Linked DNA regions of Homo sapiens. The gene in region 5 interacts genetically with the main gene of each other region. Each region holds a gene or a part of one and is shown on either strand. Other genes may lie near its edges. The genes, in order: SLC39A3, NUDC, EP300, SEC23B, SLC39A9, TRAPPC13 and CARM1.

Region 1 (3,107 bases), on a different chromosome or scaffold from region 5:
CGAGGAAAGGCGTCCCTCCCCAGCTCTCACCTCCCCAGACCCGGCAGGGTTGCCGGGACGACGGCTCAGGCCTTCCGGAGGTTGCCACAGAGCCAGGAGCCCAGGGCTGCCCCAGCCCACGCCCGGCTGCTCGTCCCCCGTGCTCCTGCCCTCTCGGGAGCAGCGTCCCTGTGTCCACGGGAGGGATCGCACCGCGGGGCCCCTGCCCCACCGCTAGTGGGGTCCATCTTCCTCTGGAGACCCCGGTGTGTGTAAGCAGAGCTGAGGACTGATCTTTAAGCTGCCTCCTGGCCCTGCTCGTGAGTCTCAGGAAACTGTGACACTCACCTGGCCCGGGGGTCCTGGCCCAGGGGTCCCCGCTCCAGGAGCCACCCAGCAAAGGGAAAAGGAGAGGGCACTCCTGAGGGTACATGGCCCACTCACAGGGGGTACAGCCTTGTGTGGCAGGAGGGACGGAGCCCGGCTGTCCCATCGCAGTGACTCCAACCTCTAATAAGCCTCAAGACACTCGGGGCTCGGGCGGCGAGATCCTGGCAACAGAGTAGGGTAGACGTTGGGGCCTCAGGGCCCCCAGCTGGCTCCTGAGGCACAGGCGGCGCGGCCCTCACTCTGGCCACAGCAGCCAAATGCTCCCGTCCTTATTCACAGGCTGGGGGTGTGCGGCAGGGAGAGGAGGGTCCTGACCGATCTCACCGGGACCCAGGTCCTGGCCCTCCCGCCCGTGGGTTGCCACACCCCACGGCCCGAGGTTGACATGGCCACACAGCTTTGGTAAAGACTTTTAAGAGAAAGAAGTATTTTAAAAAGTAGCAGTGCTCTGAGGCTCAGGGTGTAGGATCGGGGGCACAGCCTGGTCCCGGGAGGCCCCTTGTGCACAGGTGGTGGCCCAGGGCCACAGTGCTCGCTCTTGGGGGACGCGCGGCCGGGGGACGCGGCCTGTGTCCGGCCCGGGGCTCCCGGCGGGCTCCGGCGGCAGGGACAATGGCGAGGCCGCTCACCACTTGAGGAAGACCATCCCGGCCAGGACGGTGTAGCCCAGCACCAGGAAGAGGACCTTGAGCAGACGGTCACTCTTCTCCTCCAGCTCCTTGGCCAGGATCTCCAGGAAGGTGATGAAGAGGAAGGTGCCGCCCGCCAGGCCCTGCAGCAGCACGGACGCCACGCTGCCCGGCACGCCCTGGGCGCTCTCAATGCCCAGGCCCAGGCCGATGCCCAGGGGGATCATGGCGCTTACGGTGACCGCCAGCTTGGCCGCGTCCCGCAGGGGCATGGCACTCCGGGCCATGCTGATGCCCAGGGCCACGGCCACCAGTGTCTCGTGGACGGCCACCCCCACGAACAGGCTCACCACTTTCTCCCCCTCCTCCTGCAGGCCCAGGGCCAGGCCCTCAAAGACCGAGTGGGCCGACAGCGCGAAGGCCAGGCTGAGCAGGCGCACGGGGCTGGCGCGCGAGAGGCCCTGCACGCTCAGGCTGGGGCCGTGGCCGTGGGGCTCCACGTACAGCGCGTGGCCCCGCGCGCCCCCCATGAAGGGGCTCTCATACTCCGAGTCGCTGCCCACGTCCGATCCGGCGTTGAAGGTCTCCAGGTCGATGAAGGACGGCTTCTCCTTGCGGAAGGTCAGGATCAGCTGCTCCAGGAAGACGGTCATGAAGAAGCCCAGCAGGAGGATGGTTTCGGCCAGCGGGTAGTCGGTGCTGATGTGGCCGAGGCTCAGGACCTTCTGGAGCTGCAGCCGGGGACACCCGAGAGAGAGAGAGAGACCCACGCTCAGGGGTGGCGGCGACAGGGCTGGCCAGATGTCACCGTTCAAAGCAAAGTCCAGAAATCCCCGATTCACACAGAGGTTAAAACAAGTGGGAGAGGAAGGGCTCGCCTGTGATGAATTAACACCACCACCACCAGCCAAGCGCGGTGGCTCATGCCTGTGACCCCAGCATTTTGGGAGACTGAGGCTGGCGGATTGCTTGAGCCCAGGAGTTCGAGACCAGCCTGGCCAATATGGGGAAACATGTTTCTACTAAAAATACAAAAATTAGCTGGGCATGGTGGCGAGCACCTGTAATCCCAGCTACTCAGGAGGCTGAGGCAGGAGAATGGCTTGAACCCAGGAGGCAGAGGTTGCAGTGAGACGAGATCGTGCCACTGCACTCCAGCCTGGGCGACAGAGGGAGACTCCGGCTCAAAATAAACACATAAAGAGCTGCACTGGCCTTGCGTGTTCTGCCGCGGGGCCTCCTCTCTGCTTCCCTGACCGACATGCCTGGGCCCGACTCTCCTCCTGGTCAGGGCTCTCCTAGCGAGGGGAGACTTTGGTGGGGAGAAACTAGACGTGGGTCAGACGGGAGCCGCAGGGCGTCTGCAAGAGGTACACACTCCTATGGGAGGGACAGCTGCTCACGGGGCGGACACGCAGGCATTAGGCTATGCGCCAGGATGAAATGTCTCATGAAAGGCAGGCTGTAAACGCCCACAACAGCTCCCTGGAGCCTCGTCACGGCAGGGCCAGAGTTCACAGCCACCCTCCAGAGAGACCTCGAGACCAAAGTGGAGGAAAATCACAACACAATCGACACTCAACAATGCCTGCTTCCCTGCTTCCTTCCCAGCGGAGACTTCATTACAACCTGCGCACGTGCACACACACACACACACACGCATATGTGCACACACGCACGCACACACACGCGCACACGCAGGTGCACACACAAGCACGCGCACACAGTGGTTCTCAACCAGGGCGATTCTGCCCGTGTGGACACCTGGCAATGTCTGGAAACATTTTTTATTTTCACAACTCGGGTAGGGGGAAGGTGCTGACATTCGGGGCTGGATTGTTCTCTGGGACGGGGCCGTCCTGGGCACTGCAGGGTGCTGCTGAGCAGTGTCTCTGGCCTCCACCCACTCCAGGCCAGGAGCACCCCCCATCGTGACAACCACAATGTCCCCAGGCATCGCCCAGTGTTCCCTGGGGGCAGTTCACGCTGGGTGAGCCTCTGCTGCAGCAGAAGGCTGTGTTTCCACGGAGAAGCCACTTAACTCCCTCACTGACCACCGGCTGGAGGCCTCATGCATGCCTCGCTTGAGGACAAGCTCATGAGGAACTC
Region 2 (4,110 bases), on a different chromosome or scaffold from region 5:
CCGGCCTTGCCCTCAAGATGACCTCAGCAAATGACAAGAGTAGGCAAGCCAAAGCCATAAAGCCATAAACATGGCTGGAAAGGGGGCAGGGCAGCTCCTGAGGCAGCGCAGTGATCCACTCACTGCTGTCACCGAAGTCTAAGCCCCCAGGCACCCACGGTCCCCCAACCCCGTCTCTGAATTGCTCACTTCTTCAGAATCTCCTGTTTCTTCTGTTCGTCTGAAGTTGGCAGCCCCATGGACTTCTGTCGCTGGTCATACATCATCTTTTCCACCATGCTGCGAGTCTCACTGTCCAGGTCTGACAGCTGAGGGCAGGCAGTGACAGGAATCGGTGAAGCTCTGGAAACAACGAGGCCCCTCACCTTCCTGCTGAAGCTCCCCCAACCAGCCAGGGCTCACCTTGGAATTCTCAGGGTTAATCTTCTTGGTGTTGATCTCAGGGTCACTGGACACCAAGCGGCTCCACCACTCCATCTTATTGATCTGTGAAGAGAACAACCAGAGGGTGGGAGGTGGCCTGCTCTGTGCACCAGGAATCACCCCTTAACCCTTTCACAACCAAACTCTCTCCCATCCACATCCTGCACCTGAGACCCTTGCAGGCCTACACTGGATCCAGAGGTACAAGACTGTGCCCTTCCTGCAGCTAGGGGAGACACAGAGGCAAAGAGTTACAAATCAGTGTGATAAGGGAAAGAAGAAAGCAGAAAGGGAGATATTCATCCAGGGTGGAGGGAGAAAAGTTTGAAAGTGACACTCGGGCTGAGTCTTAAGACACAAAGCAGTATTCCAGATTTAAAATGGGAAGAAAATAAATATATATATTTTTTGAGATGGAGTCTTGTTCTTCTTGTCCAGGCTGGAGTGCTGTGGCACCATCTCGGCTCACTGCAACCTCTGCCTCCCGGGTTCAAGCAATTCTCCGGCCTCAGCCTCCCGAGTAACTGGGATTATAGGCATGCACCACCACACCTGGCTAATTTTTGTATTTTTAGTAGAGACGGGGCTTCACCATATTGGGCCAGGCTGGTCTCAAACTCCTGACCTCAGATGATCTGCCTGCCTCAGTCTCCCAAAGTGTTGGGATTACAGGTGTGAGCCACCATGTGCAGTGGTGCAGTCAGCTCACTGCAACCTCCACCTCCTGGGTTCAAGCGATTCTCCTGCCTCAGACTCCCAAGTAGCTGGGATTACAGGCGCCCACCACCATGCCCAGCTAATTTTTTGTATTTTTATTAGAGATGGGGTTTGCCATCTTGGCCAGGCTGGTCTCAAACTCCTGACCTCGTGATCTGCCCACCTCAGCCTCCCAAAGCGCTAGGATTACAGGCATGAGCTACCACGCCCAGCCAGAAAAAGTTTTTAAGCAGGGAAGTGCCAGGTGCAGTGGCTCCTACCTGTAATCCCAACACTTTGGGAAGCCAAGGCAGGAAGATCCCTTGAGCCCAGGAGTTTCAGACCAGCCTGGGCAACATGAGACCCTGTCTTTACAAAAAACATTTAAAAATTAGCCAGGTAGGGTGGCGCTCGCAGTTACTCAGGAAGCTGAGGTGGGAGGGTCGTTTGAGCCCGGGAGGTCAAGGCTGCAGTAAGCCGTGATTGCGCCACTGCATTCCAGCCTGGGTGAGAACAAGACCCTGTCTCAAAAAATAAAAAATAAATTTAAAAGGCAGGGAAAGGGCTGGGCATGGTGGCTCACACCTGTAATCCCAGCACTTTGGGAGGCCGAGGTGGGCGGATCACAAGGTCAGGAGATCGAGACCATCCTGGCTAACACGGTGAAACCCTGTCTCTACTAAAAAATAGAAAACAAAACAGACAAAAAAAAAAATACAGGCATGGTGGCGGGCGCCTGTAGTCCCAGCTACACTGGAGGCTGAAGCAGGAGAATGGCATGAACCCAGGAGGCGGAGCTCGCAGTGAGCCGAGATCGCGCCACTGCACTCCAGCCTGGGCGACAAAGCAAGTGCAGAGGCATGGAGGGGTGAGTGAGTGAAGGCAGCCAGTGCCAGTCGGACAGGCTGTTACAGGGTCTTATGTGCCCTGGGAAGTTCTCCTCAGACCCTTGGCCCTTTTCAGACCACCTTTATTTACTGATCTCTGTGTCCTACCTCTCTGTAAAGGCAGTGAGGTTGAGAATGAAGGCTTCCTGAGGGCACATATTTTCCTATGTTTTGTTCACTGTTCTCTTTCCAGCACTTAGAACAAGAACAGTACCAGGCACAGAGCAGGTGTTCAAGTATTTGATGAATTGAATGCATGTACAAACCTAGTGAAAAAGAAGTGGCTTTAGAAACTAAGACTTTCAATTCTGACTCCACCCCTTCCCAGAGGTAGGAGCTTGGGTAAATCAACGAGCTCTTTTCCTGACTCAAGCCTGTAATCTCAGCACTTTGGGAGGCCAAGGTGTGAAGATCACTTGAGGCCAGGAGTTCAAGACCAGCCTGGGAAATATAGTGAGACCCCCCGGTCTCTACAAAAAAATTTAATAACAAAAATTAGCCGAGCGTGGTGGTGTACACCTGTAGTCTTAGCTACTCAGGAGGACGAGGCGAGAGAATTGCTTGGGCCCAAGGGTTCAAGGCTGCAGTGAGCTAAGAAGGTGTTACTGCACTTCAGCCTGGGCAACAGAGTGAGACCTTGTCTTTAAGAAAATAAAATAGAGACAGATCTACTTTAAAGAGTGTTGTCATGGGGATTAAGATAATCCCACAATGCCCCCAGCATGGCTCCTGAGTAAACTAAGCACACATCCTCCCTTCTACTTCCATCAACACCCCAGGCTAGAAGGGCTGGGCCTCACATACCTTCTCCAGATGCACAGTCACCACCTTGCCGTCCTCAATGAGCCACGAGCTCTCCTCCACCTTCACTTCATTGTAGAGCTCCCCATCAATGATCGCTGGCTGCCCCTTGAGCCCCACCCGGAGGTGCCGCCGCTGGATGTCCACCACCATGTCCTTCCCTTTCAGCCGGAAGTTCACACAGAAAGGGACCGCCAGCTGCATAGGGCAGAGGCAGTCAGAAGAGGCCACTAAGTGCTGCTGGTACCCCAGGCTGGCCCCCTAAGCTTTACCTCTGGTCCCTGACACTCACGTCCAGCTCCGACAGGGTCTGGGTCCAGCGGTAATTGGGCAGGTCTGCCCCGTTGCCTAGGTTGGGCTTCAGTTTTCCTTTGTCCTTCTCATCTTCCTCCTCATCTTCCTCAGTATCCTGCTTACAATCAGGGACACTCAGCTACTTACTTGACAGACAAGACACAGATTGAACCCTCACTGGGCCAAGCCCAGGGCTAGCACTGGGCATACAGCCACAAAAGAAAACAGACCTGGTCCCTGCCCACTCCACAGAGGGGCAGACCCCCAAGCCTTGGTCCACTGGGAACCAGGTAAAACTTGGTTCTGATCTCAGTCTGAGAGGAGCTCAGACTATTAATATTATACCATGTGACAAAGGATATGGCTGGGCCCACAGAACCCAGCCAACCTCAGATGGGACCTGTAATAGGCACTGCCCTCTCTGGCTATTGGGTTTTCTTGCCATAAACAGGTTAAGGTCAGTCGGTTTTTATTTTATTTTTTTGGGACGGAGTCTTGCTCTGTCGCCCAGGCTGGAGTGCAGTGGCGTGATCTCGGCTCATGGCAACCTCCGCCTCCCGGGTTCAAGCAATTCTCTGCCTCAGCCTCCCGAGTAGCTGGGATTACGGGCGCCCACCACCATGCCTGGCTAATTTTTGTATTTTTAGTAGAGATGGGGTTTCACCATCTTGGCCAAGTTGGTCTTGAACTCCAGACCTCGTGATTTACCCACCTCGGCCTCCCAAAGTGCTGGGATTACAGGTGTGAGCCACTGCGCCTGGCAGGTTTTTATTTTTTTAACCTGGATCCTTTGGTTCAATGTCTCTGAGTGTGATCTTAAAGTATGGGGAAGATTCCCAAAGCCAGGAGGGGAGGGGATAGGATAAGGAAGGGTATTCCAGAGAAAGCAGTAGGCAGGAGATTTCCTGTAAGTTCCAAGCTCCTGGCTCATCCCAAGTCCCTGCAGTCCATCTCACCTGCTTCCCTGGGGAGTCAAGGCTGCCGTTCTTGAGCTGGGCCTCATGATTCT
Region 3 (4,110 bases), on a different chromosome or scaffold from region 5:
CCCTACACAAATTCAGGCCTTAAAGAAAGAAATCTCGAGTACCAAAGGCCAAAAACTTCATAAGCTAAGACCATCTGTCTTATAGGTTAAAATGAAGGACAGAACTCCCTGTTGAAAATGGCAGATTAGTGAGAAGTAGTAATGCTCAGGAACCCCCAAAAGGGTCAAGAATCAGAGGCACCAGCTAACTCTAAAGGGCAGCAGGAGGGTTAGGGTCAAGGTAGAGAGATGGACTGGTTAAGAGTTCGCATAAGGAGCAGGAGAAGCCTAGTCTCTCTTCTCCGAGTTCAAGAACCAGGCAAAAACGCACCATCAACCTTGCAAGACAGTTCTCTGCCTGGAGGAGGGAAGACAGACATCAGGGAAGAGAAGTGACCGTGAAAACGCATGCAGGCCACTAAACACTGACACTCCAGGGACAAGGGACTGGCTGTTTTCGTTTTTTGGTCAGCTTTCTAGTAGAGTTAAATACAGAAGAATTACAGAAGAACTAGGAGTTATGGTCTGTTTAAATGACTGTGAGAATTTATAAAGTAGGAACAAACAGGATTTTCAAAATACCAGGTAAAGGCCAAAGAGATTACCAAAGACGTCAAACTAACCGGGTTGAGAGCTCCAGGTTGAGCCAACTGTCCATGGTGCTGAAGAGGAGGGGTTTGCCGGGGTACAATAGGGGGCTGGGCCATGCTCATCTGGCCAAATTGATTCAAACCTGTGAATATGAGCAAAATGTTAGATCTGAATGCCTTTGTGAAATTGAATAATAAAAGATAGAATTCTTATGTCTGATTCTGTATCTTTTTTTTTTTTTGAGACGGAGTCTTGCTCTGTCGCCCAGGCTGGAGTGCAGTGGCGCAATCTCCGCTCACTGCAAGCTCTGCCACCTGGGTTCACACCATTCTCCTGCCTCAGCCTCCTGAGTAGCTGGGACTACAGGCGTCCGCCACCACACCCAGCTAATTTTTTGTATTTTTAGTAGAGACGGGGGTTTCACTGTGTTAGCCAGGATGGTCTCTATCTCCTGACCTTGTGATCTGCCCGCCTCAGCCTCCCAAAGTGCTGGGATTACAGGCGTGAGCCACCGCACCTGGCCCTGATTCTATCAGGACTAATAAACTGGCTTTCAACCTTCTAAGTATAAATAAATCTGTCTCATTCACAGTAGCAGTAAACAGACATTATCAACTAACAGGATCTCCAAACTGAATTTTACAAATTTTACAATCTGCTTTTTTTTTTTTTTTTGAGACGAAGTCTTGCTGTCACTCAGGCTGGGGTCCAGTGGCGCGATCTCGCCTCACTGCAAACTCCGCCTCCTGGGTTCAAGTGATTCTCCAGCCTCAGCCTCCAGAGTAAATGGGATTACAGGCCCGTGCCACTACAACCGGCTAATTTTTTTGTATTTTTAGTAGAGACAGGGTTTCACCACATTGGCCAGGCTGGTCTCGTACTTTGACCTCAGGTGGTACACCAGCCTCGGCCTCCCAAAGTGCTGGGATTACAAGCGTGAGCCACCATGCCCAGCCTGCAGTTGTTTTTTAATGGATACTTGATCATTTAATGTCACCTGCCCTGTGATCTGCCAGCCAACCTGCTCTTCACCCCCTCTTCCTCTATGGGCAGGTAATCATGACACTTGCTGTTGGCATAAAGCGGGTGTTCAGGTAGCAAGTATTATCTTGCAGTACACCGGGGATTCTTTTAAAATAAAAAAATTTTTTTCACTATTTACCAGATTGTGGAGTTATTCGAGGCATCATCTGGTTTGGCACACTGCCACGGATCATACTTGGGTCAGGTAGAGGGCCATCTAGAGTAAAAAAGAGAAATAAGTATCTTTGCACCATCTTCCCTTAACCAAACAAAAACTCACTGCACACACAAACCCCACAAAATATTTTTAATAATACCTTTGAAAATTGAGTATGAATCACAAAATAAAGCTCTGAACTAGACAGAAGCTTGAAGAAAATGTTATTTCTGGAATACAGAAAAATGCCTCCAAGTGGATTTGTTGGTATTCCTTTATGAGCCCGGGTGCTTTCAATGTTGATAGAAAAATAAGCTATTGAAGCCATTATAGGCCAGGCACAGTGGCTCACGCCTGTAATCCTGGCACTTTGGGAGGCTGAGGTGGGTGGATCACTTGAGGTCAGGAGTTCAAAACCAGCCTAGCCAACATGGCGAAACCCTGTCTCTACTAAAAATACAAAAAAATTAGCCAGGCGTGGTGGCAGGCACCTGTAATCCCAGCTACTCAGGAGGCTGAGGCAGGAGAATCGCATGAACCTGGAAGGCGGAGGTTGCAGTGAGCCAAGATCACACGACTGCACTCCAGCCTGGGCGATGGAGCAAGACTCTGTCTCAAAAAAAAAAAAAAAAATTGAGGCCATCATAGCATTTAATATGTTATTGTTTAACAAAGTCTGAGTCTGGTTGGCATGCAACAGAGTATCTCCATGGATAATAGCTATGAATCATGTCTAATGGTGGCCGAATTTGATCATGTAGCACAACGTTTTTATGCACATAAACTGTGAACATTGATTTTAAATAATATGCATATTATACCACACTACATATCATGTACCTCTTAAATACAAAAACAGAAATAATTCTTAAAAAAATAAAATATCCTGTAATCCCAGCACTTTGGGAGGCCGAGGCGGGCGGATCACGAGGTCAGGAGATCGAGACCATCCTAGATAGCACGGTGAAACCCGTCTCTACTAAAAATACAAAAAAATAGCCGGGCGTGGTGGCAGGCGCCTGTAGTCCCAGCTACTCGGGAGGCTGAGGCAGGAGAATGGCGTGAACCCGGGGCATGACCCCGGGAGGTGGAGCTTGCAGTAAGCTGAGATCGTGCCACTGCACTCCAGCCTGGGCGACAGAGCGAGACTCCGTCTCAAAAAAAACCTAAAATATAAATACATAAATTCTAAGGTCTTTTTCCTGGATTATCTGCACATGCTCTAGTGTAGTACTTTCAACATAGTGCACAGAGAAAATATTTTTACAGCACCCTCGGAAAGGACAGATGTCTGTAGTGACCTGGCTCCACCCTGGCCATACCCTCCATCAAGGGCTGTACATTCAAGCCTCAGGCATAGGAGAGGAAGACCTGCTGCTCTTCTAAGGAGATGTCCATCCCTTCAGACAAATTTCAACCTTTAGTAAATGAGCAAAACTGAGAGAGGAAATGCTCAACATTTATTCATATAAACTTTTATCTGTAACTCTGCAAGCTTTATAAGAAGTATATGCATAATCCATGCTCATTACATAAAAATTAAAAATCAATAGAAAAATGAATCAGGATCCAACAAATGACCTTGAGATAAACCTTTCCTCTTCCTCCCCACACATATCTGTATTCACGCACACTATCTACAAAACAATGTTTTCACCTAAGATATGAGTAACTTTTTTTTCAAGTCAACAATATGGATAGGTGTTCCAAGCTAAATGGCAAGTGCCAAGCAGCTAATACCAAGTAAAACTGTTTTAAGTACCCAAAACAATAGAGAATGGTGAGGACTGAAGTGGAGAGAAAACACAGCTCTTCTAGAGTCAGCCATGAGTGCAGCTATAGACAGGTGTCACTGTAGGAGAAAGGGGGTCAAGTCTGCCAGACATGTCCTTTTTTTTTTAAAGCAGCCAGAAATTCAGACTTTTTAAATGCAAAATCTTCTGATTTTTAAGTATTTGAGACTAATCAAATGAAAATGGTTTAAAAATAAAACCGCAATCCTACTGCCCACATTTGCCCCATATGATGCAGATACGAATGTATCTATTATTGCTCCATGAGGCAGCTCTTGTCATTTTAAGGAAACTTGATGAATTATTTAAAGGAACATCTTGATACTATTTTTTAAGATAAATATTTAAAGGCTGGGCGCAGTGGGTCACACCTGTAATTTCAGCATTTTGGGAGGCCGAGGTGGGTGGATATCTTGAGCTCAGGAGTTCGAGACTAGTCTGGGCAACATACAGAAACCCTGTTTCTACTAAAAAATAAAAAAAAATTAGCCAGGCATGGTGGCGTGTGCCTGTGGTCCCAGCTACTTGGGGGGCTGAAGTGGGAGGATTGCTTGAGCTTGGGAGGCA
Region 4 (4,110 bases), on a different chromosome or scaffold from region 5:
ACTGGCAAATTGACTTTACTCACATGCCCTGAGTCAGGAAACTAAAATACCTCTTGGTCTAGGTAGACACTTTCACTGGATGGGTAGAGGCCTTTCCCACAGGGTCTGAGAAGGCCACTGCAGTCATTTTTTCCCTTTTGTCAGACATAATTCCTTGGTTTGGCCTTCCCACCTCTATACAGTCCGATAACGGACCAGCCTTTATTAGTCAAATCACCCAAACAGTTTTTCAGGCTCTTGGTATTCAGTGAAAACTTCATACCCCTTACCATCCTCAATCTTCAGGAACGGTAGGACAAACTAATGGTCTTTTAAAAACACACCTCACCAAGCTCAGCCTCCAACTTAACAAAAAGGACTCTGTCAAGAATAGAGCCCAAAAACTCACCAACCAAACAAGTAATTACACTGAACTCCCTTGGACACTCTCTAATTGGATGTCCTGGGTCCTCCCAATTCTTAGTCCTCTAATACCTGTTTTTCTCCTTCTCTTATTTGGACCTTGTGTCTTTCATTTAGTTTCTCAATTCATAGAAAACCACATCCAGGCCATCACCAATAATTCTATACGACAAATGCTCCTTCTAACAACCCCACAACATCACCCCTTACGCCAAAATCTTTCTTCAGTTGAATCTCTCCCACTGTAGGTTCCCACGCTGCCCCTAATCCCGCTAGAAGCAGTCCTGAGAAACATCGCCCATTAATCTCTCCATATCACCCCCAAAATTTTTTCACTGCTCCAACACTTCACTATTTTGTTTTGCTTTTCTTATTAATATAACAACACAGGAATGTCAGGCCTCTGAACCCAAGCCAAGCCATCATATCCCCTATGACCTGCACGTATACATCCAGATGGCCTGAAGCAACTGAAAATTCACAAAAGAAGTGAAAATAGCCTTAACTGATGACATTCCACCTGTGATTTGTTTCTGCCCCACCCTAACTGATCAATGTACTTTGTAATCTCCCCCACCCTTAAGAAGGGTCTTTGTAATTCTCCCCACCCTTGAGAACGTACTTTGTGAGATCCACCTCCTGCCCACAAAACATTGCTCGTAACTCCACTGCCTATCCCAAAACCTATAAGAACTAATGATAATCCACCACCCTTTGCTGACTCCTTTTTCGGACTCAGCCTGCCTGCACCCAGGTGAAATCAAGAGCCTTGTTGCTCACACAAAGCCTGTTTGGTGGTCTCTTCACACGGACACATGAGATAATTATTTCCGATAAAAATGGAATAAAACTAGAAATCAATAACAGAAGAAAGCAAAAATATCAACATATATATGGAAATTAAACTCACTTTTGAGCATGCTCATGTTCAAGGGTTGTAAGACTTAATATTGTGAAGATGTTCATGCTGCCTAGTGAACTACAGATTCAATGCAATCCCTTTTCAATTAACAATTTTTTTTTTTTAGAAATAGAAAAAGTAACCAACAAATTATACGGAATCTCAAAGGACAATAAAGAGCCTAAAAATGTGGCCGGGTGCGGTGGCTCACGCCTGTAATCCCAGCACTTTCGGAAGCCGAGGTGGGTGGATCACAAGGTCAGGAGAACGAGACCATCCTGGCTAACATGGTGAAACCCCGTCTCTACTAAAAATATTAAAAAAATTAGCCGGGCGTGGTGGCAGGCGCCTGTAATCCCAGCTACTCGGGAGGCTGAGGTAGGAGAATGGCGTGAACCCGAGAGGCAGAGCTTGCAGTGAGCCGAGATCGTGCCACTGCACTCCAGCCTGGGCAACAGAGCAAGACTCCATCTCAGAAGAAAAAAAAAAAAAGAAAAAGAAAAAAAAAAGAGCCCAAAAATGTTTAAAAAAAAGAAACAATGTCACCTTTTCTAATTTCAAAGCACATTACAAAGCTACAGTAATAAAAACAGTTTAGTTCTGGCATAAAGACAGACAAGTTTTCCAATAAAACACAATGTAGCAGAAATGCAAACCTCCAACATATGGGTAAACAGTTATTTGAACAGCTATATTCATTGAAGCATTATTCACAAAGGCCAATATTTGAAAGCAAAACAAACTTTCCTCACTGAATAAATGAATAAATACAATTTGTAAAAAAAAAAAAAAAAAGAATTACTGTGGCTGCTGGGTGAAGAATAATGTATAAATAGGCAATGGTAACATCAGGGAGAACAATTAGAAGATTCAAGTAAGAAGGAGTGGCTGGCCCAGGGCAGCTGGTAGTAGGGAGGGGGAAGTGGGTGGATTCTGGATAAATTTCAAATATAGAGCCAATGGGATTTTCCAGTGAATTAGATATGGAACATGAAAGAGAGAGGTCAAGGATAAGTCTAAGGTTCTGAAGCTAAACAACTAGATGATGGAGTACCATCAACTGAGATGAAGAAGGCTACAGAGAACAGGTTTGGAATTTAATCAGTTCTACCTTTTTAGTAGCCTTCTATAATGTCAGGACTTGAAAACAATGCCAGTAGATGCACACACATCAAACCTAAAGGTTAGGATCCTGCTGCCCTCACAGCTTTAAGTCCCCTGCCCAGGTAAGAGACATGGAAGACAAAGGATTTCAAGAGAAATTCAGTATTTAACATTGCTCATTAAATGCACAACAAAGAAATTACCTGTATCACGTACTCAATTGTAGAAAACTGGGGCATCAATTCGGCAGGTTGATTCACCTCAGATATGCCTCCATAAGCTGGAGGAAACTGAAAAGAAGGAAACAGTTTTATTAGGGTTGGCATAACTATATTACACTTTTTATTTTCCATGTGTAAAAATGATAATGATGCCAAGACGAGAGGAACACTTGAGCTCAGGAGCTCCAGACTAGCTTGGGCAACACTGTGAGACCCTGTCTGTATACAAGAAGTAAAAACATTAGTTGGGCGTGGTGGCTCACACCTGTAGTCCCAGCTACTCAGAAGGCTGAGGTGGGAGGATCACTTGAACCCAGGAGGTTAAGGCTGCAGTGAGCCATGATTGCGCCACTGCACTCCAGCCTGGGAAACAGAGCAAGACTCTGTCTCAAAAAAGAAGAAAAAAAATGGTAATGACCATGTATTTATTCTGAAAGCACAAAATACAGGACACGTTAAAAAACATAAAAATCAGCATTTAAAACTTCTAACCCTGCCTTATATTTATATCATTTCTGTCCTCTTAAAAAATATTTTTTAGAGCAGTTTTAAGCTATTGTAACTTCTAAATGTTTAAAAGCACACTTTATGTTGCCCAGGCTGGTCTTGAACTCCTGGTTTCAAGTGATTTTCTCCCCTCAGTCTCCCAAAGTGCTGGGATTACAGGCATAAGCCACCATGCCTAGCCAAAAACACACAAATGAAAACCATTTCTTAAGTTTTGCCCTGCAAATTAAAGGCTGAGATTTCACCTATCTCATCAATAGTTAATAGTCTAAATAAAGCCAAAGACTTTATTTAGGTTTATTATTTTGGCTATTATCAATAAAGTAATACATACGGAATGTAGAAAAATTGGCAAGTCCAGGAAAATAGAAGCAAACAAAGGAGGAAAAGCCCCCCAAAATCCTATCACCTAGAAGCAGCTACTGTCAACCTCCTGGCAGATTTCCTTCCAGACTTAAGCACAGTTGAGAACATCCCATATATACAATGTGGAACTTGTTTTTTCCAGTCAACATAATGCCACAGGCATTTTCTTTTGTTTTTAAAACTCTCTGCAAATGTTTTAAATTCACAGCTTGTGGGTTGGCTTATAATCCAAATAGTCTTTAGCTTTACATTAAAAATACAAGTTGAGGTGCATCTCCCCAAAGTGAGCAGATGATCACTCCAGGCCAGTGACCTCAGAGTGACCAAATGCAAGTGCTGCTGAGGAGCTGACAGGCAGCTTTAGGGGCCTCTGGTTGGGAGAGAAGGGTACAACTGAGCTTGCGAGCCCCAGCAAGAATCTCAGTCAGAGCCAGCAGAAGACTCTAGCCCCATCCTGGCCATGACTGCCCACTGACTGCAGCTCCCAGCAGGGATAAGCTCGATCTATGACTACAGACACACCAGCCACCTCCCAGCAACCTGGAGAGGCCCTGTTCACCCACGCAGTCAGCCAGCTGCACAGAAGGGAGCAAAGGAGACGGAGATCAC
Region 5 (4,110 bases):
AGTATTCAATGTTAGTTATTTTGGTTGCTGTTGTTGTTATTGGAAAACTAACATTCAATTTTCCAACTAATCAAAAATCCATTGATTAGTTAATCAAATTCTAACAAGGGAAATACCAAAGAAGAATTTCAAAGGAAGCATCTCTTAATCTTATAGGTTAAGAAACAAAATAGTCCCAGCTACTTGGGAGGCTGAGGCAGGAGGATTGCTTAAACCCGGGAGGTGGAGCTTGCAATGAGCCGAATCGTGCCAGTGCACTCCAGCCTCGGCAACAGAGTGAGACTCCGTCTCAAAAAAAGAAATAAATAAAATAAAGATACTAGAACTCTATATAGATGATTACTACTTAATAAGTAAACACTGGTTGAATGAATGAAATTTGTTAGAAAAGCATATTATACTTAGAAAGGGCCAGGTAACAGTGTACCACCTTTCACATGCCTTTCTTTGCCACTGACAGAATTCTATTACTAGGACTAGGTTTGGGTTATGATTCTAAAGTGTACCCTGTCAGCAATGCTAAGATCTCTGCATTCCACTGCATACCACTTCTGCTTAAACTGGTGTTTTGCATATAAACTGGTAACAGAGCTGTTCAGGACAGAAGCGCCAAGGCTCTTTTCCAGATGACATTCTAGAGCCAAGAATGAAAAGAGCAAACTTCTTCTTAAGAGCTAGACAGTAAATATTTGAGGCTTTGCAGTTATTTGGTCTCTTGCAACTGTTCAATTCTGCCACTGTTGCACAAAAACAAAAGAGATGGATCATTGTCATTGTCTATCTCTTCCTCAGCCTCCTGCAACTTTATCTTCATTCTAACATCAGTCACATTTGCCTTTCTCCATTTTTTATTGCCATCACCCTAACCTAAATTTTCATCACTCAAACAAACCTAAATCAGCAATAGGTTCCCTACTCTCATTTTTCCCTAATCAAATTCACTGTCACAAACAATACATAAATACATGGGCAAGGCTGTGTTCCAATAAAACTTCCTTAATTTGAATTATATAATTCTCATGTGCTACAGTATGTTCCTCTCTCTCTTTTTTTTTTTAAACCATTAAAAAGTATAGAAACCATTCTTAGCTTGCAAACCCCTGACACTGAGCACACCAAGCTTGTGCTTGTGTTGGAGGACTTCATTAAGAAACCTTTTCCTCAAAGGCCAGTCCAAGAGCATTCAATGAGGACGGTCCCTGAAATATAAACACTAAGGTCTCCCCTGTGCGATAGAAAACAAAGAAGTTCCACTGCAATCCAACCCTACCTGCAGCATGGACAACCAGACCCAGCGTGGTGGTGATTTTGGAATTGCTAGACCTTGCTGCTTCTGGATCTAAAGTGAAAATGAGAAAGACAGCGTTAAGCTATGTGAGACAGAAACTGTTCAAACATTGGTCTGGAGGTGAAAGAATTTCACTAATGTTGGCCAGGCTGGTCTCAAACTCCTGACCTCCAATGATCCGCCCGCCTCACCCTCCCAAAGTGTTGAGATGATAGGCGTGAGCCACCGCACCCGGCCACTATCTTTTTTCTTTCTGCTTCAAACCCTTAGAAGATTTCCCTGTCCTGAAGAGGTGGCTAAGAGGGAACTCTTCATTTGACTCAGCCCTACCTTAACAGAAAAATCACTGAAATGTGTAACCCCCAATGGCCCCAACTTCCTCCTATTCCTTAATCCTCTTCCTCTACTATTCCAAGGAAAGTGATCTATGGCCTCTGATCATTTCTTTCCAGACCAATCTAATTGTCATTGTCTATCTCTTCCTTAGCATCCTGCAACTTTATCTTCATTCTAACATCTGTCACATTTTTATTGCCATCACCCTAACCTAAATTTTCATCACTCAAACCTAAATTAGCATCAGGTTCCCTACTCTCATTTTTCCCTAATATAATTAATCTTACACATCCGTGTCAGATTCATCGTTTGAAAACACCACCCTTGGCCGGGCACAGTAGCTCACACCTGTAATCCCAGCACTTTGGGAGGCCGAGGCAGGTGGATCACCTGAGGTCAGGAGTTTGAGACCAGCCTGACCAACATGGTGAAACCACGTTTCTACTAAAAAATATAAAAATTAGCTGAGTATGGTGGCGGGCGCCTGTAATCTCGGCTACTTGGGAGCTGAGGCAGGAGAACTGCTTGAACCCAGGAGGCAGAAGTTGCAATGAGCCGAGATTGTGCCATTGCCCTCCAGCCTGGGCAACAAGAGTGAAACTCCGTCTCAAAAACAAACAAACAAAAAACCCACCACCCTTATGATGTGTCAGTTACCATTTAAGAATCTGCTGCTTTTCAAATTCAGGGCAAACTGCTATATTAGATAGGTTCTTAAGCCCTTTATCAACTAGTTCCAACTTATTTCTCAATGTCCAGTCTAGTTAAACCAGTTTGCTTAACACCATCGAACAAAACCTTCTTATTCTCCTTTCCCCAAGTCTCCTCACCTGTAATTCTTGGCACATACTGAACTTCTCAGCTTGTTAAGCCAAAACTTGGACATCAATCAAAGTCTAACTACAGAACCACTTCCCTCAAGAAAGAATAAAAAATTGAAGACTAAGCATGGTGGCTCATGCCTGTAATCTCAGCAGTCTGGGAGGTCGATGGGGGAGGATCACTTGAGGCCAGGAGTTTGAGACCAGCCTGGGCAACATCACAAGACCCTATCTCTACAAAATTTTTAAAATTTAGCCAAGTGTGGTGGTGCATGCCTGTAGTCCCAGGTATCTAGGAGGTTAAGGTGGAAGGATCACTTGTGCCTAGGAGTTTAAGGCTGCAACAAGCTATGCTCATGCCACTGGACTCCAGCCCGGGTGACAGAGCAAGACCTTGTCTCAAGAAAAATTAAAAATAAATTTAAAAAATTGATTCCAGCTCAAAGCAACTCTCCCCTTGCCTAGACCTAGTGATCTATGCAGGCAGTCTTCAAAGGTTCCTCTATACACCACCTCAGATATACAAAGCCATTTTCACTTGAATGTTTTCTATCCCCAGATGGACTGTAAATGCTAAAGCATTAAATTTTCTACCTCTCTTTTCCTTTAACATGTCTGACAGAATGTAGCACAGCACTAGGCACCCAATAGTTACTTAATAAATCCTTGCTGAAGAGTGAAAAAAGCATTTATGTGTATTAAATAAAGATGTTACTGCTCTTGTAGGAAACATACAAGTAAATAAAGTTAAAAGATGGGGACATCAAAATGCCAGGTAAAATGACAGATGAACATCAGTCAAGTAAGTTACAGGGGATTTAATCTTCTTAGGAGTCCAGCATACAAAAGGAAGGGGTTTACAATGGAAAAAGTATACAAGTAAAGTAAGATATTACCTCTTATTAATAAATGATATTTTCCTATTAAAACACTGCAAAGAAGGGAAGCTAAAGACCCTAATCACTCTGCGCCAGCAAATAGCTCAATGCTACCCTGAACTGGAAGGAACAGTCAAATTACACTGTGTGCAAGCTGGCTCTGGCCTTTTTTTATACAAAGGCTTATCATCCAGTTATACTTAGGATCTTAAACAATTAGAGGCTTTAAAATTAGAAAGTTTTTATAAACCTATAAAGACTGCAGTTTAGCATAAATTTAATAAATACATTTTATTGACATTTTATAATACATAAAACTCTGCAGAAAATAGGTAAAACCAGGTCATCAGACACGAAAGCCAGCAAAAATAATGACTTCAGAGATAAAACAGGAAGAAGAATAATGGAACACAAGCTACATTTAACTCTCTGTATAGGATTACTGGCTACTACTGCGCCCACACATTTTATTTTTATTTTTTTAGAGACAGAGTCTTGCTTGTTGCCCAGGCTGGAGTGAAGTGGTGCGATCACAGCTCACTGCAGCCTCGAACTGAAATGATTCTCCCTCGCATCTCAGCCACCTGAGTAGCTGTGATTACAGGCAAGTGCCACTATGCCTGGCTAATTTTTAAAGTACTTTTTTGTAGAGATGGGTCTTGCTGTGTTGTCCAGGCTGGTCTCAAACTCCTGACCTCAAGCCATCTTCCCACTTTGGCCTCCCAAAGTGCTGGGATTACAGGCGTGCACCATTGTGACTGGCCTGACAATCACCATATATATCTTT
Region 6 (4,110 bases), on a different chromosome or scaffold from region 5:
AGGAATGGTAGAGAAGTTAAAAAGAGTAAGGGTGAATGTGGGTTTAAAAAAAGAAATACTCTCTCAACATCAAAAGAAAAGGACATAGGAATAGATGGTTTAATACTTTGTGAAAAGGAAATACATACACCTTTCCACAGCTAATTTAAAAGAGGAAGAATAAATGTAAAGTTGACAATAATACAGATAAGAAAGTAATAGGCTGGGTGTGGTGGCTCATGCCTGTAATCCTAACCCTTTGGAAGGCTGAGGCCAGAGGATTGCTTGAAGCTATGAGTTCTAGACCAACCTGGGCAACTTGGCATTTTTTTTATTTAGCTGGGCATGGTGGTACACTCCTGCATTCCTAGCTCCTTGGGAGAGAGGCAGGAAAATCGCTTGAGTCCACAAGTTCAAGGCTGCAGTGAGCCATGATTGCACCACTGTACTCCAGCCTGGTGACAGAGAGAGACCTTGTATTTTAAACAAAAAAAAAAAAAAAAAAAAAAAGAAGAAGAAGAAGAAGAAGGTAATAGCTTGGGATAGCATCTGAATTTCTTAATTAGGAATGAAAAGTTTGCTTTTATATTCTTAGGTTGGTTACACACAGAAAAGTTCATAGCCTCTTTCATCCTCACTGAGGAAAACAATTTTCCATTCTTTTCTAGATGTTTTAGTTCATTTTGAAAATTAGTTTAGAATGGTATGTCTCTTATTATTCTAAACTCTTATCTTTGATAATTTTAGAGAAAAGAGACAGGATACTTAAGGTTCTGGTTTCTGTTGCACTTTTCAGTTAATTGATACATGTTCAATTTTATAAGTAATATATTACATTCTATTATAAAGAACCTCCTTGAACCCAGAAGTTAGAAGTTACAGTGAGCTATGATCATACCACTGTACTCCAGCCTGGGTGACAGAGCAAGACCCTGTCTCTTAAAATTATTTAAAAAAAAAAAAAGGGACCCCTGCCTTTCGGGGTCCAATTACTATAAAGAACCTCAAGATTTTCGATATCAACTGAAAAAAATGAAGGAAAAATAAATCATTGCAGTATACGTTCTTTTTATTTGTATTGAAATCGTTAACATGTTCTGTTGTTGATCTTTGGAGGGTACATCATCCAGTTCCTATCCAAAGGAACAATCACAGCCATGGTTTTTCTTTTAAAAGATGCTAGAGAATTTTCTCCGTCTCTGTCTCCACCCCTCTCAGTGTGTCTACGTTTGGGTCAAGAGCATATTTGCAACCAATGGATACACGCCAGTACTTATACTGCCTAAAGCCAAAGAATGAATTTGCAGAAAAAGCAGGCATCATTAAGGGAGTAACAGTAATTGGAAAATTGGATATAGTATGGAAAACAAATCTAGGTGAAAGGGGAAGGTTACAGACCAGCCAACTTCAAAGAATGGTGAGTCTGGAAAAAACTTCGCTGGGGTTTTGGTGTGTGAAAGACAGGTAGTTAGAACAACTTAATTTTTTCTACATCCAGCAGTAAAAAATTGGAGCACTATAAAAGGCATTACTACTACTGGAGCAGAAAAGATTAATAGTGTCACTGATAGGTAGGTCGAAGACTGGTGTTGCCATGAATGAAAAATGGTCAAATGTTAATTTATCCTTAATACACGTGTTCTTTATCACACAGAAATTAAAATAACTGTTATTAAGTGTCTCTCCTTTGGTAACACATGCTCACTCTTCTTCTGATTTCCAAACACATTAAGGTTTTCTATTTTGCAATGTCCTGAAACTCTTGGACTTACTTCATTCACCTACTCAGTTCCTACCATTTTTAAGATGTTAAAAATCTGAGGCATCTCCTCAGAAGGTGAGTTCTACTAAAGTTATCTTATAAGCATTGGTTGCATATTTTACCTAATTTCTTCTCTGAGAGTAGGGATAGCTACCAGGCTTCTTTTTCTTATGCTTGTAAGAATATACGACAGGATTCTCCTCCCTTTATGCTGAATATTACCTGTTTTGACATATTCCAAATTTTACTTTTCTTTCCACTGTTTGAGGCAATAATTTTTAAAAAATGATGATGATGATTCCTGGGCCCACTTAAATATAGCCGTTAGTTATTTTTCTGCCATGGCCTGTTCCAAGCCTTCGTGTTGTTATAATCCATCCTCATCTGTGCGTCTTGTAAAAAGTCATGATTTTCTTCCTGGCTCCTTTCAACATCATCCCCCTCTTTCTTTAGAAAATAACTTTACCTATTTAGAGTTACACACATAGAAGCTACAGCATCTGGAAAGTGTCCCTTCAACTCCCTGAAATTTCTTTACTGACTACTTACCTGTGAGATTCATCTTAACTCTACTGAACATGGAATAATTATATAACAAAAACAGTCCAGGTCTGCCAGGCTATTCCACAGGCAGTAGCTGCAAAAGAATTTAAAATGAGAGACAAGTAAAGTGAATCAGAAGTATTTTCTTAGAACATCAGCTTGGAAACCCAACAGCTGTTGAGTAAATGTGCTGCTGTGGTGCCTTCATTAAAATGGAAAGGTTTTGTGATAGATATACATTAACTGTGTTGCTTGTTTTCTTAGGCTCCAGGTTATGGAGATGTTAGGTTGTCTTTGGAGGCAATACCAGATACCGTAAACCTTGAAGAACCTTTTCATATTACCTGTAAAATAACAAACTGCAGGTAATGCCACTGTTTGTAGATGGATGTCCTTTCTACCTCACCTGCCTAGAAGATAATTTTAAAATCTTTTTGTTACTATCTCCTTTTAAGTTTTCCTCTTGACATACAGCCTTCTCTGATGTTGATATTGAGTACTGTAAAATTCTTCATCTGGTAGCAGTATAATTACATATTTTTAAGGGCCTATTGTATTATGCATCTTCTGTATTTTATTTCATTCATTTGTCACACCCTATGAGGTAGGTATTCATTGTTTATACTTCCTTCACCAAAACATGAACTAATAGGTTCTTATGTATTAATATATTATGAATTGAAGTAGCAAGATTTTTTGAGGCATGCTTGTACTTGAGCTGTATCTTGAGTATTAAGAAACCAAACATTGCTTATGGATTTAATGTAAGGGGAGATCATTGATTCGAAAACTGGGTTTTGACAGTAAAGAGAGAGCATAATCTGAACTGTCAGGAAGCAAAGAGCACAGGGCTTTGAAACCAGAAAAAAATAGAATTAAGTTCCAGTCCTATGCCCTCTGCTCCTACTTGTATTACCACTTGGTTTGTATTATTATTTGGGGTATTTTTATAATATTGCAGTGATGAATCCTAGTCCTCTTAGTGTGAATGTATAATCCTTTTAATTCCATATTTATTCTTTTTGGTATTAGAAAGATAGGAAATATTTATCCTTCAAAATTACAGAAATACCCACTTCCTCTATGAAGCTACCTAGACTTTCCAAAGCACAGGTATTCATGCCTTCTCCATCATAGAAAATTTTAACTTAGTTTTTTAGTGACACTCATATATTGTGTATTTAGTGACACTCATATATTACTGTAAGTATTAGTCTCTTTCTCACTGGACTGGAATTATTCAGGAGAAGGGACATGGCCTTACTCAGTGTCTGCCACATCGTGAGCTCAGTAAACAACAATACAGGGCAAAGACCCTGTGCTTATAGGGTGTTACAGGGTGTTGGGGAATTTTTGGTTTTTTTTTTAAGTTTTTTCAGCAAATCAGTTTATTGACCAGCTCACAAGTGTTATTTTTTTCAAAAGTTAACTTCTCTTGGTGTTCACTTTAACTTTTGGTGATTCATACAAGTTTTCTAAAAAGCACATGTCTCTTAGATCTTTAGTTTCCTCTCTATATAAATGTCATTCCCTGCCCCTACACACCAGGGACATGCACAGACACATGCACACAACATATATAAGTCTTACTGGATTTTTGTGAAATTAACAATATTCATGTAGTGCATCCACCTTGGTCTCTGGCACATAGTAGCCATCTCAAATGCTTGTTAGGGAGATTCAGGCATATACAAGTTAATATTATAAAGTCAATATGTCTAAAAAAAATAAAATTTAAATAAGCAATTTAAAATTTGGAGCCAAGTATAAGAATAAACAGCTAAAAGCCATAAGTAGCCGTGAATGGTGGTAGGAGACTATTTTTC
Region 7 (4,110 bases), on a different chromosome or scaffold from region 5:
TTTTTTTCTTTCTTTTTTATTTTTTTTATTTTTATTTTTTATTTTTTCAGACAGGGCCTCACTCTGTTGCTCAGACTGGAGTGCAGTGGTACAGTCTCAGTCTCAGCTCACTGCAGCCTTCCATGGCTAAAGTGATCCTCATACCTCAGCCTCCCTAGTAGCTGGGACCACAGGCATGTGCCACACCCAGCTAATCTTTCATATTTTTTGTAGAGAAAGGGTTTTCACTGTGTTGGCCAGGCTGGTCTCAAACTCCTGGGCTCAAGTGATCCTCCCTCCTTGGCCTCCCACAGTCCTGGAATTACAGGCATGAGCCACCGCACCGCCCTCTTTATCCTTAAGTAACATTGATATGGAGATAAAAAACATGGGTTCTTGGCCAGGCGTGGTGGCTCACACCTGTAATCCCAGCACTTTGAGAGGTTGAGGCAGGCGAATCACTTGAGGTCAGGAGGTTGAGACCAGCTTGGCCAACATGGCAAAATCTCGTCTCTGCTAAAAATGCAAAAATTAGCCAGGTGTGGTGGTACCTGCGACTGTAGTCCCAGCTACTCCGGAGGATGAGGTGGGAGGATCGCTTGAACCAGGGAAGCAGAGGTTACAGTGAGCTGAGATTGCACCACTGCATGTCAGCCTGGGTGACAGAGCAAGACCCTGTCTGAAAAAAAAAAAAAAAGCATGGGTTCTGGAGTTGGAGGTGATCAGTGCTGGGTGTATTAATTTCCCATGGCTGCAATAACAAATTATGACAGATTTTTGGTTTAAGACAACAGGAATGGATTCTCTCTCAGTTCATGGTCAGAAGTCTGAAATCATGGTACTGGCAGGGCCACAATCCCTGGAGAGGTTCTACAGGAAAATCCTTGCATCTTCCAGATTGCAGTGGATCCAGCTGTTGCTTGATTTGCAGCAGCGAAACCCAAGTCCCTGCGTCTGTCTTCACTCCTGTGTCTTGTGTCCTCTTTTTTCCTTTTTTTTTTAAAGTGAGATGGAGTCTCGCCGTGTTATAGGCTGGTCTCGAACTCCTAGGCTCAAGTGATCCTCCCACCTCAGCTGTTCTTTTCTTTTCTTTTTTTTTTTGAGACGGAGTCTGGCTCTGTCACCCAGGCTGAAGTGCAATTGCGCGATCTCCGCTTACTGCAAGCTCTGCCTCCTGGGTTCAGGCCATTCTCCTGCCTCAGCCTCCCGGGTAGCTGGGACTACAGGCGCCCGCCACCACGCCCGGCTAATTCTTTGTATTTTTAGTAGAGACGGGGTTTCACCGTGTTAGCCAGGATGGTCTCCATCTCCTGACCTCGTGATCTGCCCACCTTGGCCTCCCAAAGTGCTGGGATTACAGGCTTGAGCCACCGTGCCCGGCCCCAGCTGTTCTTTTCTTATAAGGACACTGGGCATTGGATTTAGGGCCCACTTTATATCTAGGATGATCTCATCTCAAGATCCTTATCTGCAAAGACCCTATTTCCTAATAAGGTCACCTTCACAGATTCCAGGGGTTACAACTTGGATGTCTGTCTTTTTTTTTTTTTTGAGATGGAATTTTGCCCAGGCTGGAGTGCAATGGCGTGATCTCGGCTCACTGCAACCTCTGCCTCCCGGGTTCGAGCGATTCGCCTGCTTTGGCCTCCCAAAGTCCTGGGATTACAGGGATTAGAGGCATGTGCCACCATGCCCGGTTAATTTTTTTTGTATTTTTAGTAGAGATGGGGTTTCTCCGTGTTGGTCAGGCTGGTCTCGAACTCCTGACCTCAGGTGATCCGCCCACCTTGGCCTCCTAAAGTGCTGGGATTACAGGTGTGAGCCACCGCCACCAGCCTCACATATGGCTAATTTTTAAGTTTCTTCTAGCGATGCGGTCTCACTATTTTGCCCAGGCTGGTCTTGAACTCCTGGGCTCAAGCAGTCCTCCTGCCTTGGCCTCCCAAAGTGCTAGGATTACAGACGTGAGCCACTGCGCCCGGCCAATAAATATTTATGTCCATGTTACTGACAGCAGTGTTCGTTGGTGTGGCATGGGAATGAGCTAGCTTTTCTAGGAGGAGCCCCCTATGCTCCAGGGCTGCCCCGCTGTCTTGGCTCACCGGCCATGGGAGGGAGTCCTGGGCCATGATCTGTACCTAACATAGGAGGCCCAGGAGAGGCACGTGGGGAGGACTTCCAGCCCTGTTCCTTGACGTCTGCACCCTCCAGGGGAAGGATGACAGCTGCAGAAGGGCCTGTCTCTGTCACTCTGTAGTGAACAGTTACTTCTTGCCATCTGAAGTCACCCTGGCCTACGTCCATGAGATTGGCCAAATGGCAACTACCAACACCAGGCCATTTTCCCTGTGCAGAGGGGGAGGCCCTTTGGCGTGGGCTTCCTGGGCTTGAGGAAGCTTTGGCATGGCCTCTGGAGTTCCTGGGCATAGGCTGCCCTCCCTTGGAAAGGAGGCAGTTTCTCAGGGAGGGGTGCCGGGAAAGAGAACAGAACAAACTCTCACTTCCCCAGCCCTGTGGCGCTCTTTCTGGAAATGACTGTGTCACTTTTCTTTCTTGGTCAGCACGAGTCAGTGTGGCCAGTGCTTTAGACTCTCCCATCCCCTTGGCTCAGAAGCTTACACAGCAGCATGGGCTCCGTCAGGGGCTAAACTTCAGTTTGTGAGGGGCATGCCATGGGGTGGAAAGTTCAGAGAAAAACCCTTTGTCCAAAGAAGGTGAAGAATGGCCTGCTGTCACCGAACCAGGGGCCCTTGTGACTTCCTTTGGTTACACTCCTGGGATCCCCCTGACAGCTGGGGCAGGGGTATAGAAGAGCTTGTTATGTGCCCCATCTTTAGGACATCTCGGTGTCAAGCTGGAGTGACAACAGGGAAAGTTAGTAACCCCAGAAAGGCATTTGTGTTTCAGCGGTGCCTGCGTGTGGCTAATGGATACCGTCATTTATTGAGCATTTATCCCGTACCAGACTGTGCATAAACTTGTGTTGACTCAAAATGCTTGACCTTGGGGGCAGCTAGGGAAAGGGCAGTGATATAAATTAGGCCTATGGGCCACATTGAGCCTGTGGCCTATTTTTATCTGTGTTTGTATTTTATTAGTGAGACAGAGTCTCACTGTGTTGCCCAGGCTGGAGTGCAATGGCATGGTCTTGGCTCACTGTAACCTCCACCTCCCAGGTTCAAGTGATTCTCATGCCTCACCCTCCTGAGTAGCTGGGATTACAGGCCTGTGCCACCACCCTGGCTAATTTTTGTATTTTTAGTAGAGACAGGGTTTCACCATCTTGGCCAGGCTGGCCTCGAACTCCTGACCTCAAATAATCTGCCTGCCTCAGCCTCCCAAAATGCTGGGATTACAGGTGCGAGCCACCGCACCCAGCCTGTGTTTTATTATTTATTTATTTTGAGATGGAATCTCGCTCTGTTGCCCAGGCTGGAATGCAGTGGCGCAATCTCGGCTCACTGCAACCTCTGCCTCCCAGGTTCAAGCGATTCTCCTGTCTCAGCCTCCCGAGTAGCTGGGATTACAGGCACATGCCGCCATGCCCAGCTAATTTTTTGTATTTTAGTAGCTCACTGCAGCCTCTAACTCCTGGGCTCAAGTGATCCTCTGGCCTCATCCTCCCAAGTAGCTGGGACTACAAGCACATGTCACCACCCTTGGCTAATTTAAGCAATTTTTTTAGAGACAGAGTCTTGCTGTGTTTCCCAGGCTGGCCCCAAACCCCTGGCCTCAAACCATCCTCCTCCTGCCTGAGCCTCAGAAGTAGCTGGGATTATAGTCACGAACCGCTGGGCCCGGTGTGGCCTATTTTTGTACAGACAAAGCTAAGAAAGGCTTTTACAGTTTTTGAGAGATTGATTAGGGAAAAAAACTAAAACCCAATCCACAAACAACAATAATCAGTTGAGACCACAGTGTCCTGCAAAACCTGAAATATTTACTCACTGGCCCGAGGCAGGGGAAGCTTGTAGACCCCTGGGATAAATGAATGAGGCAGGCAGGAGTTGGGGTCTGTGGGGAGTTTGGCCCCAGCCAAAAGAGAAACCAAAAAATCCTCAGGCCGAATAGAGCATACTTCTGAATTGTGTGAGCCCCTTGTGCCAATTGTGGCGCTTACTGTATGTTACC

The links.
Region 1: changes in SLC39A9 (region 5) and SLC39A3 together harm fitness less than expected from each alone (positive genetic interaction), as found in Homo sapiens cells (one large-scale study listed by BioGRID).
Region 2: changes in SLC39A9 (region 5) and NUDC together harm fitness more than expected from each alone (negative genetic interaction), as found in Homo sapiens cells (one large-scale study listed by BioGRID).
Region 3: changes in SLC39A9 (region 5) and EP300 together harm fitness less than expected from each alone (positive genetic interaction), as found in Homo sapiens cells (one large-scale study listed by BioGRID).
Region 4: changes in SLC39A9 (region 5) and SEC23B together harm fitness less than expected from each alone (positive genetic interaction), as found in Homo sapiens cells (one large-scale study listed by BioGRID).
Region 6: changes in SLC39A9 (region 5) and TRAPPC13 together harm fitness more than expected from each alone (negative genetic interaction), as found in Homo sapiens cells (one large-scale study listed by BioGRID).
Region 7: changes in SLC39A9 (region 5) and CARM1 together harm fitness less than expected from each alone (positive genetic interaction), as found in Homo sapiens cells (one large-scale study listed by BioGRID).

What each region holds. Positions count from the first base shown.
Region 1 is NC_000019.10:2,731,757-2,734,863, forward strand, and holds the end of SLC39A3 (zinc transporter ZIP3), read right to left. Parts: exon of another isoform or gene 2,770-3,107; intron 1,730-2,769; coding exon 995-1,729; 3' UTR 768-994; downstream 1-767. UniProt on the Homo sapiens protein: Transporter for the divalent cation Zn(2+). Mediates the influx of Zn(2+) into cells from extracellular space. Controls Zn(2+) accumulation into dentate gyrus granule cells in the hippocampus.
Region 2 is NC_000001.11:26,941,766-26,945,875, reverse strand, and holds part of NUDC (nuclear migration protein nudC), read right to left. Parts: coding exon 4,058-4,110; intron 3,217-4,057; coding exon 3,100-3,216; intron 3,006-3,099; coding exon 2,811-3,005; intron 487-2,810; coding exon 403-486; intron 309-402; coding exon 190-308; intron 1-189. UniProt on the Homo sapiens protein: Plays a role in neurogenesis and neuronal migration. Necessary for correct formation of mitotic spindles and chromosome separation during mitosis. Necessary for cytokinesis and cell proliferation.
Region 3 is NC_000022.11:41,144,439-41,148,548, reverse strand, and holds part of EP300 (histone acetyltransferase p300), read right to left. Parts: intron 1,811-4,110; coding exon 1,733-1,810; intron 713-1,732; coding exon 603-712; intron 1-602. UniProt on the Homo sapiens protein: Functions as a histone acetyltransferase and regulates transcription via chromatin remodeling. Acetylates all four core histones in nucleosomes. Histone acetylation gives an epigenetic tag for transcriptional activation.
Region 4 is NC_000020.11:18,514,237-18,518,346, reverse strand, and holds part of SEC23B (protein transport protein Sec23B), read right to left. Parts: intron 2,698-4,110; coding exon 2,611-2,697; intron 1-2,610. UniProt on the Homo sapiens protein: Component of the coat protein complex II (COPII) which promotes the formation of transport vesicles from the endoplasmic reticulum (ER).
Region 5 is NC_000014.9:69,450,470-69,454,579, reverse strand, and holds part of SLC39A9 (zinc transporter ZIP9), read right to left. Parts: intron 1,340-4,110; coding exon 1,271-1,339; intron 1-1,270. UniProt on the Homo sapiens protein: Transports zinc ions across cell and organelle membranes into the cytoplasm and regulates intracellular zinc homeostasis. Participates in the zinc ions efflux out of the secretory compartments.
Region 6 is NC_000005.10:65,659,502-65,663,611, forward strand, and holds part of TRAPPC13 (trafficking protein particle complex subunit 13), read left to right. Parts: intron 1-1,197; coding exon 1,198-1,396; intron 1,397-2,548; coding exon 2,549-2,649; intron 2,650-4,110.
Region 7 is NC_000019.10:10,874,363-10,878,472, forward strand, and holds part of CARM1 (histone-arginine methyltransferase CARM1), read left to right. Parts: intron 1-4,110. UniProt on the Homo sapiens protein: Methylates (mono- and asymmetric dimethylation) the guanidino nitrogens of arginyl residues in several proteins involved in DNA packaging, transcription regulation, pre-mRNA splicing, and mRNA stability.